Linked DNA regions of Homo sapiens: all the other regions are linked to region 2. Evidence: fine-mapped expression QTL. A gene starts in region 2. Each other region holds a variant in brackets. All regions are shown on one strand. Distances are from middle to middle.

Region 1 (2,838 bases), 37 kb before region 2:
ATCTTGGCTCACTGCAACCTCTGCCTCCCGGTTTCAAGCAATTCTCATGCCTCAGCCTCCCGAGTAGCTGGGATTATAGGCACCTGCCACCACACCCGGCTAATTTTTGTATTTTTAGTAGAGACGAGGTTTCACCATCTTGGCCAGGCTGGTCTTGAACTCCTGACCTCAGGTGATCCACCCACCTCAGCCTCGCAAAGTGCTGGGATTACATGTGTGAGCCACCACGCCCGGCCATCGCAGGGTGTCTTCAGGGAGATGACGGTCCCTGTCCAGGGAGGGGAGGGGAGGGGCGGCGGGACCCCTGCGTAGGAGGCTCTCGCTGCTCACTGGCATTAAATTAGGGCCAAGCCTCACCTTGGGTCTCAGCCTGGCGCCCTCCCTCCCCTGGGGTGCCTCCTGCAGCGTCTCATTCCCCTGGGAACTAAAATGCATGGAGCCCAAATGCTGCCGGGGCCGAAAGGGGTCTGCGTGGAGACTTCCTGTCCGGGACTGGGGTGGGGAAGGTGGGGAGGCAGCTGGCAGGTGGGCAGCGCACCTTGGTGTGGTAACCGGGAAACAGGCTCTCGGTCATGGGGCCCACATACGTCCGCAGCAGCTGCAGCCACTGGTCCTCGTACCCCACCTGCTTCATGTGGATGTCCACGGTGGGCACATTCTCGTAGCCTCCAGCCAGCCTTGAATCCTGGGGGCGGCGGGCACTGAGCCACCCGCCCCTCCAGCCATGGCGCTCCCCACCCCAGGGCAGTCCAGCCTCCTTCCTCCCGTCCTCCAGCCTTCACACCTGTGTTCCTCTGTGCAGAACAGTCTTCTTTGCTACTTCTCGGCCTGACTCACTGCTCCCGGCCCTTCAAGTCTCAGCTAAGATGTCACCTGTCCTGTGAAGCTCCCTACTCCTCCCAAGTCTGGGTCAAGGCTTCCCCGTGGCTTCTATTGCACCCAGGCTGCTCATCGCAGCCTTAGAAGCTGTGTGGTGGCTGCTGCTCACAGCAGGGCAGAGCTCGACCGGCATGAGGCATTCCTGCAGTGCAGTCTAGGACAGTGGCCCAGGAATGATTTCCTTTTCTCTTTTTTTAGAGACAGAGTCTTGCTCTGTCACCCAGGCTGGAGTACTGCGGCATGATCATAGCTCACTGCAGCCTCTAACTCTGGGGCTCAAGTGATCCTTCTGCCTCAGCCTCCTGAATAGCTGGGACATGCCACCATGCCCGGCTAATTTGTTGGTTTTTCTGAGATGGAGTTTCACTCTTGTTGCCCAGCCTGGAGTTCAATCTTGGCTCACTGCAACCTCTGCCTCCCGGGTTCAAGCAATTCTACCTCAGCTCCCGAGTAGCTGGGACTACAGGCGCCCGCCACCATGCCCGGCTAATTTTGTGTTTTTAGTAGAGATGGGGTTTCTCCATGTTGGTCAGGCTGGTCTCGAACTCCTGACCCCAGGTGATCCACCTGCCTCGGC[C/T]TCCCAAAGTGCTGGGATTACAGGCGTGAGCCACCGCACCTGGCCCAAACTCGGCTAATTTTTAAATTTTTTGTAGAGACAGGGTCTCGCTATGTTGCCCAGGCTGGCCTCAAACTCCCCCTGCTCGAGCAATCCTCCCGCCTCAGCCTCCCAAAGTGCTAGGATTACAGGCATGAGCCACTGTGCCCAGCAGTAAATATTTCTTGAATACATGAATGAATGCAGTTGTGACCCCAGGGTCTGCCTCCCCCCTGGGAACCCCTCTTTGCTCCCATTTTCCTGATTCCATTGTTTGTTTACCAGATCCTGCACCTCCTCCTCTGGGAAGGCCTCTGCCCTCCTCGCCCAGGCCCTTACCTCATGCCGGCCGCCTGACCACTGGCCGTAGTGCTCCATCTCTGCCACCAGCTCATCACACATTTGTTCTGACAGCAGTGGGAACCAGTACACGTCCGGGCATGGCTGAGGATGGGGCGAGGGAGAACAGGGCTAGCTGACGCCGCAGAACGGGGAAGGGGACAGGCAGCAGGCAGAATGGGAAGGGGCAGGGAGGAGCAGGGAAGGCTTTGTGAGAGCAGCCGGGGACCCGCCAGGTAGGGGCTGAGGGAGTGGCAAGGCTGAGGACCGGTTTCTGGCACAGGAGAGGTGGCAGAGGGTCCTGGAGCCCCTCGTGCTGGGACAGTGGTTTCCAAACTTCCGTAACAGTGCATACCTCTTTTTTTTTTTTTTGAGATAGGGTATTGCTCTGTCAACCAGGCTGGAGTGCAGTGGCACAATCATAGCTCACTACAGCCTCGACCTTCTGGGCTCAAGCGATCCTCCCGCCTCAGACTCCCAAGTAGCTGGAACTACAGGCACATGCCACCATGCCAAGCTAATTTTTTCTTTTCTTTTTTTTTTGAGACAGGGTCTCGCTGTGTCACCCAAGGTGGAGTGCAGTGGCGTGATCTTGGCTCACTGCAACCTCTGCCTCCCAGGTTCAAGCGATTCTCCCACCTCAGCCTCCCGAGTAGCTGGGACTACAGGTGCACGCCATCACACCTGACTAATTTTTGTGTTTTTTTTTTTTTTTTTTTTGGTAGAGACAGGATTTGCCATGTTGGCCAGGCTGGTCTCGAACTCCTGACCTCAGGTGATCTGCCTGCCTCGGCCTCTCAATGTACTGGGATTACAAGCATGAGCACCACTCCTGGCCTCATTTCTTATTTAATTTTTTTGTTGTTGTTGTAGAGACAGATTCTCGCTATGTTGCCCAGGCTGGTCTTGGACTTCTGGCCTCAACCGATCCACCCACCTTGGCCTCCCAAAGTGCTGGGATTACAGGCATGAGCCACTGAGCCCAGCCCCATTCTTCTTTTAAGATGTGATTTCAAGCATAACAC
Region 2 (2,806 bases):
AGTAGCCAAAAGTTCACTGGGAGACGTCAAGCTAAGTATAGCCCTTGGTGCAGTAAATCTACCGGAGACAACTCAGAGGTGCCTGGACTACGGGGCCCACATCGCAGAGCAGCCCAGATGGCAGCGGGAAAGGGAGAGTACAGCGCCTCACCCTCGAGCAGCACGATGCCTTTACGGATGTCATCATTGTACTTGCTCCGCACCAGGCACCAGGCGTACTCAAACTGCGTGCTCTTGGACACCGAGCCTGCTGCCTTCTCAGACTGAAATTTCTTTTCAAACTTCTGCCACAGGGGAGGAAAGGAATCATTTAGAAATGTAGGGCGTCAACCATTCTCTATCTGGACATGCCATCTCCCTGGCTCTGCCCCTTTCCCTCGCAGGTCTCGGTATCTGGCACCCCAGCTTCTGCTATCTCCATGCCCGGGACCCAGGCTTTCGGCTCCTCCGGGCCTGCGGGCCAGCTCTTGGGACAGAGGCCCCCGGTCTCCCCTCCCCGCGGCGGTACCGAGCGGAGATGCCACCTGGTGGCAGCTCCAGGCACCGCTCCCGGAGCAGCTGACCCCGGCGGCCGAACAGTAAACACGCTGTCAGAACTGCTCAACAGCCCACGCGGTCCTCATTTGAGGCTGCTGGCCCCATCCTGCCCCACCCTGCCGGGCCTGGACCTTTTATTGTCCAGGAATAGAAGTAGTGCCTACCTCCTAGAGCTACAAAGACTGAGATCTGGCATGCGATGCCTTAGCACCGTGCCGGACGCAGTAATAGGTGACACCTTATGATGGTCACTGTATTCCTCCACCGCTGGAGGAGCGCCCTGAGCTCACAGCTCCTGCATGATCCCAGATCCCGTCAGTCTAACCACGGTCGGGCTCCAGGCCCGTAGTCTGAGGTGTGGGGGGCTCAGGACACTACAACTCCCAGGAGCCTCTGCGGCATAGCAGGCCCTCCGGGCAGGAGCCAGGCGCTGTGGAGGCTGCCGGGAGCCGTAGTTCGGCTTCCCTCGGCCAAGCCGATGCCGGGAGGAGGGTTCGGCCCCTACCTGACTCTCCTCAGGACCCGCCCTCCGACCTTCCCTTTCCCTCTGTCCGGGCCAGGCCTCACCAGCAGGTCCTCCACAGACACCAGCTCGTTCAGCACGGCCTCCATGGCCACTGCCCCCGCGAGCCTCACACTACAGTCTACTGTGCCACAGTCTCCATGGCCCAGTGGCAGGGGCGGAGAACCACTTCCGGCGTCCGGCGGATGCTGGCACGACCTGGCGACGCCCCGCCCCTTCCTCTCAGTTCAGCAGCGCCGGCGGGGCGCTAGTGCGCAGGCTCGGCCGGTCCCTCCAGCCCGCAGACTGCGCGCAGGGAGACCTTCCCCAGGTTGGTCTTCCCAGGTGCCTCAGCCGGTGCCTTCCTCTGTGGAGGCTTCCCTAGGGAAACTGGAGGCCATGTCTTGGCGGTTAGCCCCCAGGATGAAAACAGCAAAAAGAGGGTGGGTAGCTGACCAGAGATCACAGTACATTAGGGTGCCAAGCTGACGCCCCTCAGAAATCTAGGACCTTGGAGGCCACGTGACTATTCATCGCCTGCAACAAAATCTTAACTAGAACCGGGAGCCCGGCGCGTAGCTCACGTCCGAAGCCCAACAACTTGGGAGGCCGCGGCGGGAAGATCGCTGGAGGCCAGGAGTTCAAGACCAGCCTGAGCAACATAGCGAGACCCTATCTCTACAAAATTTTTAAAAAAATCAACCGGCGTGGTGGCGTGCACCTGTACTCCCAGCTACTGGGGCGGCTGAGGCAGGAGGATCGCTTGAGTCCGGGAGTTCGAGGCTGCAGTGAGTTATCGCGCCACTGCACTCCAGCTTGAGCGACAGAGACCTTGTCTCAAAAAACCCACCAACAGCAGCAAACTAGTATCGGGGTTTCTTGGGCCTCTGCTGACTCTCACAATGCAAGAGCAGAGGCAACTGGATCTGTAAACCACACAGCCACACAGGGGTAGTCATAGGAGACACTATCAACGGGAAGTTTTTCAAAAAGCAACGGCCCCATTATTGGCAGAGAAGGTCCAATTTTCAATATTATTTACATAAACCATTTTGGGAGTGCACCCCAGGCGGGAAACCTGCCACATGGGGTCACGGGCAATGGGGAGCTTAGCAGTGAGGAGCTATCAGAGCATGGGAAGGAGAAAGGTGTGGACACCTCTGGCTTCAGTTTCTGTGCAGTGAGGGGACTGGGTAAGTAGCAACTTTCAAATTCTTTTCCCCTTGAGTCACATTGGAGTGTAAGTTCCTTGAGGGCAGAGACTTACCTTGCTTATCCAGCATCTAGCACAGGGCTTGGCAGAGAGTGAGGGCTCAATAAATATTTGTTGAATAAACACGGAAAAAGCAAATTAATTGTAAACAAGGCACTGCACATGCAGGGGATAATCATCCAGACACCTTCCGCGTTTGCAAAGCCCCTTTAATTTTTATTATTTTTTAGAGACAGGGTCTCATTCTGTGGCCCAGGCTGGAGTGCATGCAGCGGCACAATCAGAGCTTACTGCAGCCTTGACCTCCTGAGCTCCTGTAATCCTCCTGCCTTAGTCTCCCAAGAAGCTGGGACTACAGGTGTGCACCACCACACCCAGGTTGTTTTTTGTTTTTTGTTTTTTTTTTCCGAGACAGTTTCTCGCTCTGTCACCCAGGCTGGAGCGCAGTGGCACAATCTCGGCTCACTGCAACCTCCGCCTCCTGGGTTCAAGCGATTCTCTTGCTTCAGCCTCCCAAGTAGCTGGGATTACAGGCGCCGGCCATCACACCCAGC
Region 3 (2,500 bases), 23 kb before region 2:
CCATGTAGTCCTCCCACCGCAGCCTCCCAAGTAACTGGGACTACAGGCATGTGCAACCACGCCTGGCTTATTTTTTAATTTTTTGTAGAGATGGGGTTTGGCTATGCTGCCCAGGCTGGTTTCTAACTCCTGGCATCAAGCGATCCTTTGGCCTCCCAAAGTGCTGAGATTACAGGCGTGCGCCACCACACCCGGCCTCACCAGGCGCTGGCTGCATGGCCAGTTCTGGAGCCCGGGAGCAGGTTCTGTGTTGAGGGAGTCACTCTGGGAGTCATTTGCTTGTGGGTGATCATCAGAGCCCTTTGTTTGGAGTCAAAATCCCAGGAAGAGTGCATAGACTGAGCAGAGAAGAGGGCCAGCCACCTCCATAGAGGCAGGGAGAGCAGCCGAGCTGGAGCCGGAGGATTCCTGGACATGGAGAAGGCCTGCAGTTTTGTCAAGGAAGCAAGCAAAGGGTCTCTTTCTACTCGATGAAGGTAGTCGGCACCGCCACAGGGTGGACAGGGCTCAGGTCCAAGGAGGAGGAGGAAGGCACACTGGAGCCGCTCTGGGGCCCAGAGCGTGGGTGGGTGGTCCCCCAGGATGACCAGGCAGGTGTCAGATTTTGGGGTTCAAGGAGAGGATGGGAGGTGAAAAAGTGACACATCACGTGAGTTGCTGTGAAGGAGAAGGAGCTGTGAAGCCGAGTAGACACATGAGCGTCGCCAGCTCTTTGATGGAAAGTGCCGGTTGAGGAGGAGGGGTTGAAGATGGGAGAGGGAGGGAATGGGCTGGAGGTGAAGGCTCGGGGTCAGTGGTGGGACTTGGGGCGCTCCAGGGCAGGGGTGTGCCCACTTGGCATCACGTTTGTGGGTAGGTGGCCTGGAAGATGAGCGTATCCAAGCATGGGTGGCCCCTGGTTCCTTTGAGGTAGGAGGTGAGATGCTGAGTGTGAGGGCCATGTGTATTGAGGGCCCAGGACAGCCTGGAAGCCCCAGGGCGCTGTGACCTCCCCAGTCAGCAGTGAGCTGTCTCCAGGCCGGGGCTCACTGGCTGGGACTGGGATTGAGAGGAAGGCGGAGAAAACAGGCAGGAGAAACTGAAAGGGTCTCAGCTGGCGGGACAGGAAGTGTGGGCCCAGGGCTTGGCCCGGGAGGAGACAAGGGGACCAAGGGCTTGGCAATGGGGATGAGATCAGAGAGCTGCAGCTTCCACCCCGGGTGCCTTCCTCGCCCTGCCCAGAGCGGCGGCCACACTGCTCTTTCTTGGAAGCCCTGTAACTTTG[C/T]GTGCCCTGCTCCATCCAGTTCGCTCCCAGGACCCCGGGCAGCGGCGGGTGCTGGACCGGGCTGCCCGGCAGCGTCGCATCAACCGGCAGCTGGAGGCCCTGGAGAATGACAACTTCCAGGATGACCCCCACGCGGGACTCCCTCAGCTCGGCAAGAGACTGCCTCAGTTTGATGACGATGCGGACACTGGTGAGGCGGATGGAGGAGGAAGCGGGGGATGGGACTGAGAGGAGGGCGGGAGAGTCCGCCCAACTCAGGCTGTGGGAGGACCCAGGAGCTCCTGGTGCCTCTGCCAGTGACTGGCTCCCATGGCTGTGAGCAACCACACCCCCTTTCTGTGCCTCAGTTTCCTCTCGTGTATGTGAAATAAACAAGAGAGACTGGATAAGCTCTGACACGAAGCCTTAGGCTTGGGGGCATGGAGGTGACTGTCAGCTGGGATTGGAGAATTGGGGTGGAGGGCAGAGGCTGGTAGCGAGGGGCCGACTTAGAGCCAGGAGGGCAGGGCCAGGTGTGGTGGCTCACGCCTGTAATCCCAGCATTTGGGAGGCTGAGGTGGGCGGATCACTTGAGGTCAGGAGTTCAAGACCAGCCTGGCCAACATGGTGAAACCCCATCTCTACTAAAAATACAAAAACAAAATTAGCCAGGCATGGTGGTGGACACCTGTAATCCCAGCTACTCAGGAGGCCAAGGCAAGAAAATCACTTGAACCCAGGAGATGGAGGTTGCAGTGAGTCAAGATCGCACCACTGCACTCCAGCCTGGGTGACAGAGTGAGACTGTCTCAAAAAGAACCAGGAGGGCACATGGGCATGGGGAGTGATGAACCAGAGAAAGCTGCTGTCTTTCTGGGCAAGTGCCAAGCAACGGATCACCCTTGACCCCTAGGAAAGAAAAAGAAGAAAACCCGAGGTGATCATTTTAAACTTCGCTTCCGAAAAAACTTTCAGGCCCTGTTGGAGGAGCAGGTGAGAGGAGGGTCGGCCTGGGAGGACCCCACAGGGAAGGGGTGAGCCTGGCCCGGGCAGGTGTTCGCTGCGTGGGTGGGCGGAGGAGTTCTAGAGCCGGCCCCTTGTCTCTGCAGAACTTGAGTGTGGCCGAGGGCCCTAACTACCTGACGGCCTGTGCGGGACCCCCATCGCGGCCCCAGCGCCCCTTCTGTGCTGTCTGTGGCTTCCCATCCCCCTACACCTGTGTCAGCTGCGGTGCCCGGTACTGCACTGTGCGCTGTC

Which allele goes with the higher level. Alleles are on the strand shown, and positions count from the first base shown. SD is a standard deviation of normalised expression in the study named. Not every link is listed here.
With allele C in place of T in region 3, the expression in aorta of the gene that starts at base 1,226 in region 2 is higher (large effect, 1.0 SD a copy in GTEx).

The links. PIP is the estimated chance that this variant, and not a neighbour inherited with it, causes the effect. A credible set is the group of variants that fine-mapping cannot tell apart.
Region 1: its variant is the best candidate, but not a certain one, in a credible set for the expression of FIS1 in lung (TOPMed, PIP 0.52).
Region 3: its variant is the best candidate, but not a certain one, in a credible set for the expression of FIS1 in aorta (GTEx, PIP 0.50).

Annotation. Positions count from the first base shown.
Region 1 is chr7:101,207,040-101,209,877 of GRCh38, forward strand. It overlaps PLOD3 (procollagen-lysine,2-oxoglutarate 5-dioxygenase 3), which reads right to left. Exons shown (of 19, transcript NM_001084.5): 16 at 1,814-1,918; 17 at 539-685. Among named protein-coding and RNA genes, the nearest start is that of MOGAT3, 7.4 kb to the left of the region's middle. The variant C/T (reference allele first, on the strand shown) is at 1,457.
Region 2 is chr7:101,243,856-101,246,661 of GRCh38, forward strand. It overlaps FIS1 (fission, mitochondrial 1), which reads right to left and starts at 1,226. Exons shown (of 5, transcript NM_016068.3): 1 at 1,105-1,226; 2 at 152-284. The coding sequence starts at 1,149. RefSeq lists enhancers at 870-919, 1,010-1,249.
Region 3 is chr7:101,221,321-101,223,820 of GRCh38, forward strand. It overlaps ZNHIT1 (zinc finger HIT-type containing 1), which reads left to right. Exons shown (of 5, transcript NM_006349.3): 2 at 1,284-1,454; 3 at 2,157-2,236; 4 at 2,353-2,500. Among named protein-coding and RNA genes, the nearest start is that of ZNHIT1, 4.4 kb to the left of the region's middle. The variant C/T (reference allele first, on the strand shown) is at 1,265.